2 separate regions of the Homo sapiens genome follow, and region 2 is linked to region 1. Evidence: fine-mapped QTL for protein levels in blood plasma. A gene starts in region 1. The other region holds a variant in brackets. All regions are shown on one strand. Distances are between the middles of the regions.

Region 1 (5,374 bases):
TGGTCTCAATAATTAATTTATCCAATGAATACTATTTAATTTTTGGCACACTTATGCCTCATCTCTTCAGATCTACTCCGGGGGTAAAGATTGGGTTTTATATTTTTTTGTAGACCAAACTGTCTATCTGCATGCTTTCCCCATATAGTTGGGACTCAATAAATGTTCCTTCATTTGGCTATGATTTAAACCCATCTCAAGTCTTCTTTAATCTTTGTTTTTGATCTAAAAATAAGGCTATATGAAATAATGGGGGACAAAGGTTTTGATGACTCTGAATTCTACCCCTGTCACTTATTAGCTGTGTGATCTTGAACAAGTTCCTCAAACTCTAAGCTTCTGATAATTTATTCTCACAACAGAAATAATAACTATGGCCAGACGCAGTGGCTCATGCCTATAATCCCAGAACTTTGGGAGATCAAATGGGAAGGATTGCTTCAGCCCAGGAGTTCAAGACCAGCCTGGGCAACATGGCAAAATCCTGTCTCTATAAAAAAATTAAAAAAAAAAAAAATTAGCTGGATGTGGTGGTATGCAACTGCAGTCCCAGTTACTCAGGAGGCTGAGGTAGGAGGATTGCTGGGGCTTGGGAGCCGGAGGCCACAGTGAACCAAGATTGTGCCACTGCACTTCGGCCTGGGTGACAGAGCGAGGTCTTGTCTCAAAAAGAAATAGTAACTATGGGCCGGGCGCGGTGGGAGGCCGAGGCGGGCGGATCAGGAGGTCAGGAGATCGAGACCATCCTGGCTAACACGGTGAAACCCTGTCTGTACTAAAAAAAATACAAAATATTAGCTGGGCCTGGTGGCGGGCGCCTGTAGTCCCAGCTACTTGGGAGGCTGAAGCAGGAGAATGGCGTGAACCCGGGAGGCGGAGCTTGCAGTGAGCCGAGATCGCGCTACTGCACTCTAGCCTGGGCGACAGAGCGAGACTCCATCTCAAAAAAAAAGAAATAGTAACTACTCACGAGATTGTTGATGAGGATTAAATAATGCATGTAAAGCACTCGATGGATAGAAGGTACTATAACCATAGGAGGCAACTATAATTATTTTAACTACATGCCTCTCAAGTTCCTTATACGTAAAATGGATACTTCGTAAGTGAAAATATTGCCTAGGGCCTGGTGCATTTTCAGTGCTTATAAAATGTTAGGAACTAATTAACAATGCTATGTCTCTCTTTCCTAGCCAAGGTCTCTCATTTTTCCTGGATTAAGCCCTTTGGCAAAACAGATTCTTTCCCAGCAGCCTTTTCAGGCCTCAGACACCCCTACCAAAGCCAGTGTCTACTGAACAGGCCCAGAGGAGCCCAGAGGGAATGGATGGGGCTTAGGTTGCAGCTGTCCTCTCCTGCTGGGACCCTGTTTCTGGTGAGCAGAGGACTGCTGCTCTGCCAGCTGTGTGACACTTTCATCACTGGCTATTTCAAGATACAGTCCAAGATAAGCACTTCTCTTGTGCTTCCTTTCAGACAAAGCTCTCTGAAGACTAAAAGCTCATTGGCCTGACCTTTGGTCTCTGGAGGAAGTGAGGAAATATCATCCAGCTCGTAGACAATGAAGACACCAAGCACTCGAGGGATGAGATTGAGCAACAAGGTGGCAGAGCTAGAGAAGAGGCCTGATAAGAGTGTTCCAGAGCATTAATAATTGTGATAAAAATAATCTCTGTCTCTTGTGAAGGTCTTACAGTTTACAAGGCATCTTCACACATACTAGCTTGTTGGCTCCTCAACACTCCTCACCTGAGACTGATGGAGCAACAGTCATCTCCGTTTTAGAGAGGAAGAAACTGAGTCCCAGAGTTGTATGATTTGCCCAAGGTCACAGAGGGTGAGAGGCAGAGCTGGCCTAGAACCGGGTCTGCTGACTTCGAGTCCAGGGTAATCGCGGATCGGAAAGAAGGAATGGGGACCCTTCTTCCACCGCCATGAAAAACAGAAAACTGAGAGTAAGAGTAAAGTACACAAAGGGTGGAGGAGCATAAAGAAGCCCGGGGTTCAGGGATGTGAGGCTGCAGGGTGAAGGTAGGGCCGAGGAATCAGGGTAGGGCTGTGGGGTCCAAGGTGGGGCTGCGGGGGCTGGGTCCTGGGACGGGAGCTCAGTGGGGATTCCAGGGGCACTGGCCGTTAAAAGTGCGAGGCGACCGTGGGAGGGTCAAGGGAGCGGGTGGCTACAGGTGTCTGAATAGGAAACGTAAAGGACGAAGATTAATGTGCAATTCCTATGACTGAGAGACGCCGAGGCCCCAAACCGGGCCAGAATACAAAAGTCTGCAGGAAGCTCAATTGAGATATAGGTGTTTTCTCCAATCAAACTTACCCAGTCAAGCTGATTCCTCAGAAGCAGCCCCAGACGTTTAACTCGACGGAAATGAGAAACGACCCATGAACCCGTGGCCCTTTGGTCGTCGTAGTTTCCAAGGCTCAAAATGGACGCTTGGAAGCACTTCTCGTTCCTCAATCTAGAACTACAATTCCCGATGTACAGTGCGCGAGATTGCGCATTACAACTCTAAAACTACACCTCCCAGAGTTCTACGCGACCGTCCAGCCCCGCGTGGTCGTGCGAAACCGCCCAAGGCCTGGGATGCGGTGTGATTCCTCCCCCTGGTGGCCTGAAGAGGTGCCGCCGCGATTTCTGCTCTCGAGCGGAGGGTTTTGCCTTAGTCCCGTGCGTAACCCTCCGCCTCACCCTCCTCAAATAGTCCTCAGGCGTGCCTAGAAATGGTCCCCGCTTCGCTTTATTCTCAAGGAGGTGGGAGGAGGTTGGAGTTTGTTTTGTGTCTTCTGCACACTTTGCTTCCTGTAAGAATAATAGACTGATCATTCAAATTAAGGGGACATTCCCTACCAGCCTGCATCTGTTGACACCTGTGATTTTCCATTGTCCTCAAAAGACTCCCTGGCAGAGAAAGGGGAGGAACCCGAGTAATCTGCTGGGCCGCATCCATCCCACATTACTGTCTAATGCTGGTTCTTAGCGACACTGATGGACAAGATACCGCTCCTAGCCTCAACAGAATCACAGTCTAGCAGAGAATTCAGACAAATGAATAATGACAGCACAGAGCCGTGATCTCATGGGGAGACACAGCAAGCGTGGGAGCCTTGAAAAGGGGCCTCTGGCCAGGCTTGGGGGAAAAGGGCGGTGTCCGCAAGGCTTTTTAGAGGGAGTGATGTTTGTTAACATTGAGACCCGATATAAGGAAAGAACGTAGCCAGGAGTACAGAGACTGTGAAGGACGTTTCAGAGTATGGCATTAAGTTCAGTGCTGGCTGCAGCTAAGTGTGAGGGATGGAAGGAGAGTATTCTCGGGGGAGTGGGCGTTAGGCAGAGCCCATCCTCAGGAGTTCTGTAAACTTCTATAGGAAATTTGGATCGTTCAGGCAGCTCAAAAACGTTCAACGGCCCTCTACTACCTATGAAGTGAAGTCCCAACTGCTTAGCCTGACATTCAAGGTCTTCTCCAACCTGCACTCCCCCACGCCCCACCCCCCACCCTTCAGCGCCCCTCCTCTGGGAGCTTTGTTCATGCCTCCAAAGTTTCCGCCGACATCTGTGTGTGCCTCGCACATGTGAGTCGACTCACACTGCCTTGGGTATCTCCTGTATTAGAGGTCTTAACTCTTGACACATTGTGAGCTCTTTGAGGTCAGGTACTGAGTCCTGCAGTCGCCCCCTCCACCCTACTCTTGCAGCCCACATCCCCCCGAAACACCAGGGTCCAGAGTCCCTGCTTTAGGCTCTCCTCTCCTGCCGACACACTGTTGTCACCCCCATCCTTCCAGGAGCCAAGATAAAGTCATCAGGAGAGAGTGCTGGCAGCCCTGCACTGTGGTAATTAAGCCTCGGATCTCATTAAATCTGTGGCTGATGGCGGTGGCCACAGAACCTGAAAAGCTTAGCGCAGATCAGAGAGCGGCTCCCTTTGGCCCATTAATCCGTGCTGTGCAGCTGGCCAGAACACTCACGACAAGCCAGAGGTCCTTGGTCATGAGAGGGACAGCTGGAGGTCATTTCTTTCAGTCTCCTACTCCCAGACCAGGCCATGCTGGAGCCATTTGCTGGCCAGCTGAGTTTAAAATTTCCCAGGGATGGGCATGTCACCACCTCCTTTACCTCCTTTGTCACAGTTAGGAAGCTCTTCCTTGGGCACAATCAGATTCTTCCCTGTTGCAAAATAAAACAGTTGAGTTTAACTATACTTCCTTCCAATCCGGTCTTTTCTAGGATAAACAACCCAAATGCCTTTACCTTTTTAAGCAAATGGTTGATTTTCCAGCATTTTCATCATAGATCTCATCCTCCAGTAGCCCAAAGTTCCCTTCAAATCTATCAGCTACCATCCCAACTCTGGCCTTTACTTTGTTGCTAAATTGCTTCAAGTTGGTATTTGGGTGACCAGCTTTGGATTTCCTTTTTTTTAGGGGGGCGGGGGGGACAGAGTCTCGCTCTGTGGCCCAGTGGCGGGATCTCAGCTCACCGCAGCCTCCGCCTCCTGGGTTCAAGCAGTTCTCCCATCTCAGCCTCCATAGTAGCTGGGATTACAGGCACATTACCACACCTGGCTAATTTTTGTATTTTTAGTAGAGATGGGTTTTCATCATGTTGGCCAGGCTGATCTTGGACTCCTGGCCTCAAGTAATCTGCCCACCTTGGCCTTCCAAAGTGCTGGGATTACAGGTGTGAGCCACCACGCACCACCAGTGGACAAAACTTTTAAAATAAAGGTAGAATAGGTATACAATAAAGTATGTAATGGGCACTAAAGTATACAGCTTAACTTCTTAAAAACATTTGCTATAACTACCATTTACTTCAAAATGTAGGACGTTTCCAATATCCTGAAAGGTTGGCTTCTCAGTTGTAATCAATCACCCCCACCCATCCTCCAGAAGGAACAACTACTTTCCGTCTCTTATCATCAACTAGTTTTGAGAAGCAACATTTTTTAACTTTGATAATAACATTTTATGCTCACTGATAGCTGATACTTGTGTCGATGCCATTCCAGTCAAAGACCACCGGAAACACACCTGTATTAAAGAAGTTGTATTAATTATTCATTGCAGCAAGAGAGAAGGCAGGCAATGGGGAAATAAGGGCAAAGGGGGTGCATTTCTGTAGGAAGGTGGAAGAAAGAATTTACAGAATTTGGGCTTTTGTTAGACAATCTGGGGAGAGTTTAAGGAAGCAGGGCTTGGCTTTGGATTGGATGCTGTCAAGAGCAAGGGTAATTCTATGACTGGGGGTCTTGATAAAATGTATCTAGAAGGAGGGGAGGCTAGACCAAGGCTAAAGCTGTCATAGGTAAGAAGCAGCAGTCTCTCATTTTAGCACGGACGGGGGGTTGGTCTTTTTCATGGT
Region 2 (5,372 bases), 24 kb before region 1:
ACTGCACTCCCACCCAGTCCAGGTGCACTCTCATAAACAAACTCCCCTTTTTTTCTCAAGCTAAGTTTGTGAACCTCTAGTCTTTGTAACCAATAAAGCTTAATAAGAGGATGCCTCCTCTGGGTGGAAGCTGGACCATGGACCTCTGCAGGCCTCGCCCTTTAGCTGCTCTATGACTGATGACATTATTCATAGTCCTTCCATGCTTTGTTTCTTTAAAACACTTCCATAAATTTAGCCCGTTATCCTCATAAACTCCCCTACAATGCAGATAAGGTGGGCAATAATGAGTCTGGGTAAGGAGAGAGGTGGTGGAGTAGAGAGAGGTGAATACTCCATTTACAGGGAGGAAACCAAGGTTCAGAGAGGTTAAATGACTAGGCCAGGTCATTCTGCAAGTAAGATAGTCAGGATCTCCAAACTTTCAGTTAAGTATTTTTTCTTATTTATTTGTTTAATTATTTATTTAGAAACAAGGTCTTGCTCTGTTGCTCAGACTGGAGTTCAGTGGTGCAATCATGGCTCACTGCAGCCTAGACCTCCTAGGCTTAACTGATCCTCCCACCGTAGCCTCTCGAGTAGCTGGGACTATAGGTGTGTGCCACCACACCCAGCTAATTTTTTTTTTTTTTTGGTAAAGATAGAGTCTCACTATGTTGCTCAGACTGGTCTCGAACTCCTGGCCCCAAGCCATCCTCCCACCTCAACCCACCAAAGTGCTAGGATTACAGGCGTGAGCCACTGCACCTGGACTTGTTTTTTCTGTAATTCTATGTAAGTCTCTCCTTCACTCAGGTTTTCCATTTGCCATAAATCTCCTTCCCAGATCCCAGACATGTCAGAGTTCTCACTCTGCTGCAAGGAAATCTAAGGGACCCCACAGCTGCCCCAAGAGCCCCAGTTTTCTCCTTACCGAGGTGCTTCTGCAGGAAGGCCAACATGGCCCGTACCATAACCTCCTGCCCTTCATAGGGGTCCAGGCTCCCACGGGTTTCAGTGGAGAAGAATTTACCAATCAAGTTGCCAGTCACAAAAGCAAAGTCAGTTTGACTCCGATGAACAGAACCACTAGGGGAAAAGAAAAACAACTGGCAGGGGTCTGGCGGCTAGGGCATACAGATGTGTGTTAGGCACCTACTATGTGCAAGGTGCTTTTCATGTATTATCACACTTTATTTTCACAGCAACCTTGTAAGGGAAGTATTTTCCCCCTTGACAGAATCCAAGGAGAGAAACTATCTGCTTAGGGTCAGGTCATACAAGTAGTTGGGGATGGAGTTAGGATTTGAAGCCAGATGTGCTTGGCTTCAAAGCTGGCTTGACCCGTAGACTACAATGCCTGGCAGTGCAGGGAAAAGGTTGAGCTAGCAGGAGCAGGGACAGGAGCAAGGAGGTGGGATCTGTGGCACGTGGCATTTCTATGTTACTACAATCTATTAGCTGTGGCTTTTGCCTGGTGAATTTCAAACATTCACAAAACAAATGAAGTTATTCTTCAGAACTGTACCACAGAGTGAAGAGGGAAAAGGAATTACTTGCCTTTATTTAAACAATCAGAAAAGTAAGAGTGAGTGCTTTGTAAAAGGGGGTTTCTGGGTTGGAACTTAAGTCCTTTGGCAGAAAATAAATTTAATTTGCAGGTGAAATCCTTGCTAGGTTAATTTTGGGCTAAATTATTCATAACTGAATTTACTAGTCAATTCAGTGAGAGAAAGAGAATCTAAATGCTAAAGTATTTGTCTGATATCACAGAAAAACTGACTTTAAAAAATGCATTAGTTAAGGCACACAAAAAGGTGTATAGAATAATATATGGGATACTTGAGTATCCAGCACTCAGTTGAATAAACGATACATTGCCAGGCGTTAAGTCCCCTGAGTGTACCCCTTCCCAACTGGCCTCACCTCCTTTCCCTCCTGAATCTGACCTGGGGAAGCATTCAGGCAGTGTCTACTGCCATGAAACCTAACTGAACGAGGAGGGGTGGCCCTAGGAAAGAGGGCCAGGACCAAGATGAGCAAGGGAAGAAGCCACTGGCCATACTGCCGGCCCCAGTGCTCGAGGGCTCTGGATTTGGCACTTCAACTACCCAGTGACTCCAAAGGTCCATGGTATGCAGTCACTTGTCATTCTGCTGAAATAGGAACCAGATGGATCCCTGGATCCTGTGTGCCGCTGGGCTCAACTGCAGGGCAGGAGCAGTCCGTGAGATCTCAGCCCGACATCTGTGGCTCAATATCACCTCCCACATGTGGAACATTTCTTAAAGTCACTAAAAATGTTTTTTTCCCTGTGAAAAATGGCTCCCAAAAGAAAACTAACTGATAGTGCTGATGATGGAAGTGAAAAAATGTGGCTTCTCTTGACCAGAATATAGAAGGTTTATGGAAGACAACATATGTTAACAGTGATCTGTGATTCTGGTATTCATGAAGGTCTCTAGAAATGTGTCTGGTGAATATCAAAGGTCTACCATATTCACACTCTTCCAAAGACCCAATAAAATTCCCAAATGAGGCTAGCAATCTCTGGAACTCATCCAAACCCACACCACTTCCTTTCCAACACCCAACCCCATAATGCCCTTTTTCAGAAAGTACTAGGTAAATCCTGTCATAAAGTCAGATAAACTATGGAATAAATCACTGTAGATGGAGCTCAGTGGAGAAGAAGGACAGACAGAAAATTCTAAAAGAATTTAGACTTTGCAATTCAGGAAGTATTCAGGTATCCTACTAATGGGTAGAAAGTTTTGGGTAATCCAGAAGTTAAGGGCACCACAGCAAGTGGCAAATGGAGAGGGCCCTGGGATCACGACCTTGTGGTTTACTCACAGAACGGTTATGATCCTAGACTGTTCATGCTGGGCACATATCTTCTTCATCAAATTGACACTCTCCATTGTCTGGAATTTCTCAGTATTGATAAAGAACACAGGTCCTCGGGCCTTGGGGTAAAAGTCACGTTCCAGAGGAAACATCCAAGCATCCAGAGCCACCGCACACCTGGAATAGGACCAGACATTTGGAATTGCCATGCGGATCCCAGGCAAGAATAGTTAGGGTGGTGGAGGGAAGGGCGGAGTTCCTCCCTCTGGTGGGGTAAAGGCTCAGAAAGCCAGGAGGGGGGTACCAGGGCCCACGGCCTTCAGTCAGGATCTTAGGTAGGGATCACTTTTACTTTTCACCAAAGATCCTTCTAGATTTCAAACTCTCTGAGAACAAGGATCAGATATCCCTCTTCTCCTGGATCTACTCTCAGGTGACTGACCTGAGTTCCACAGAATGGCACTTCATTCATTTAATTATTCATTCATTCAACATTCATTGAGTGTCTACTATGTGCTTTGGATATAGACATAAATGAGTGTTCCTGCTTTCAAGGAGCTCCCAGTCCAGCAGGGAAGACAGAATAGACAAAGTGGCAAAACAATATAACTTAGTGCCCTGATTGCACAAGGTTCTATGTGAGGTCAGGAAAAGCCTCCTTGGTGCCAACAGCAAAACCATGTCACCAAGAGCAATATTATGGGCCTTAAGATTTTGCCATTTCCTTCCTCAGACCCCTGAAATGCTCCTCTATTCTTCTCCATCTCAATAAAGGACAATCATCTTCCACTCAAATAATAGATACACAAATGAAAAACCTTGGGCTGGGCATGGTGGTTCATCCCTGTAATCCCAGCACTTTGGGAGGCTGAGGCAGGAGGATCACTTGAGCCCAAGAGTTCAAGACCAGCCTGGGCAACATAGCAAGACACCATCTCTTAAAAAAAAAAATTAAAAAATTAGCAGGGCATGGTAGCATGTACCTGTAGTCCCAGCTATTTGAGAGGTTGAGGCATCACTTGAGCCCAGGAGGTTGAGGCTGCAGTGAGCTGATTGTACCACTGCACTCCAGCATAGGGCAACAGAGCAAGACCCTGTCTCAGAGGGAAAAAAATAAGAAGAAAAACCTGGATTTCCTCTCTTTCCTTCACCTCCCACATGACCAAATCCTGAAAACTCTAAGACATATCCTGACTCCAATCACTTCTCTCCATCCCACTATCTCAATCCTGATGTAAATTTATCATCTTTCACATTGACTCTGAAACAGAATCTCTCTAATGAGCCTCTAGGCTTTCAGTCTTGTCCTGCTACAATCCATTCTTCACATAGTAGCCAGAAGGATCTTTTAAAATGTAAGACTGATATTTCTCTGTTGAAAATCTTCAACAGTTTCCCATCATACGTAGAATAAAATATACACCTCCTTACCCTGGCCAGATGACCCTGTGATCTGGCCCCTGCTTCTCTCTCTGATCACAGCTTAAATTGCCTCCCCCTCACTCACTACGCTCCTCCCACCCTAACACAGCAAGCTTCTTTCCACTGCAGGGCCTTTGCATTAGCTATTCCTGCTGGCTGGAAAGATCTTCCTCTAGATCTTCACACGACTGGCTTCTTTGCCTTCCCAGTCTTGATTTCACTTTCTCAGAGACATATCAGCCTGTTTTCTTTTTTCTGTTTTTTTTGAGACAGGATCTTGCTCTATTGCCCAGGCTGAAGTGGTGCGGTCAGAGCTCACTGTAACCTGGAACTCCTGGGCTCAAGTGATCCTCCTGCCTCAGGCTTCAAAGTAGCCGGGACTACAGGCATGCACTATCACACTTGGCTGTTTTGTTTTTTTCAATTTTTTGTAGAGATGGGGTCTTGTGATGTTTCCTAGGCTGATCTCAAACTCCTGGCTTCAAGCAATCCTCCTGCCTCAGCCTCCCAAATCGCTGGGGTTACAGGAGTAAGCCAACATGCTCAGCTTTATTTTTCTTCATTGCACTTGGTCATGGGGATTTTATTATCGGTTGGCTTTTTCACTAGTCTGTCTCCTCCCACAATAATATAATCCCATGAAATCAGAGATCTTGTTTTCTTGTTTAACCGCTGAATCCTCAGTCCCTAAACAGTGCCAAGAATATAGTACTTGTGTAACAAATACTTTCTAAATGAATAAACGGTGTATGGAGCTAAGCACAGCAACACTACTAGGAAACTCACCGAAATTGGGTCTCCTTGGCCAAAGCCAGAATAGCTGTGGCCCCTCCAAATGAAT[G/A]TCCCATCACAGCCACACGGCTCATGTCAATGTTGCCCTGAGGAAAGTGGAGAACTTAGCCAAGTCAGAAACTCAGGACTGCTTCTTTAGGAATTCATCAGGAGCAAGAGGAAGAAATAGTGAGGCAATGAGGCCAAAGGCACAATACAGCAAGTGAGTCCACCAACACCACACTGTCAAGAATCTCTTACCTATGGAAGGGGCAACAGTCAAGCAATCCTTAGACTGAACAGCCTTGTGTAGGCAGGAATTGTGAGAATCACACTTTTCATGTTTACTT

Which allele goes with the higher level. Positions count from the first base shown, and alleles are read on the strand shown. Strength reflects both the effect of a copy and how common the allele is.
For the plasma level of the protein whose gene starts at base 2,365 in region 1, allele G in region 2 goes with a higher level than allele A (weak association).

What was found. PIP is the posterior inclusion probability: the model's chance that the variant is causal. The UK Biobank Pharma Proteomics Project read protein levels with antibody pairs (Olink). The fine-mapping took linkage between variants from a reference panel, not from the people measured, so its PIPs are less certain.
Region 2: its variant is fine-mapped to the plasma level of the PAFAH2 protein (UK Biobank, PIP 0.98). The variant lies in the coding sequence of PAFAH2. If it changes the protein, the assay may bind it differently, which can mimic a change of level.

Annotation. Positions count from the first base shown.
Region 1 is chr1:25,995,699-26,001,072 of GRCh38, forward strand. It overlaps PAFAH2 (platelet activating factor acetylhydrolase 2), which reads right to left and starts at 2,365. Exons shown (of 11, transcript NM_000437.4): 1 at 2,327-2,365. RefSeq lists enhancers at 2,111-2,190, 2,361-2,450, 2,461-2,510.
Region 2 is chr1:25,971,645-25,977,016 of GRCh38, forward strand. PAFAH2 (platelet activating factor acetylhydrolase 2) reads right to left here. Exons shown (of 11, transcript NM_000437.4): 8 at 5,038-5,129; 9 at 2,836-3,006; 10 at 914-1,068. Among named protein-coding and RNA genes, the nearest start is that of PAFAH2, 24 kb to the right of the region's middle. The variant G/A (reference allele first, on the strand shown) is at 5,093.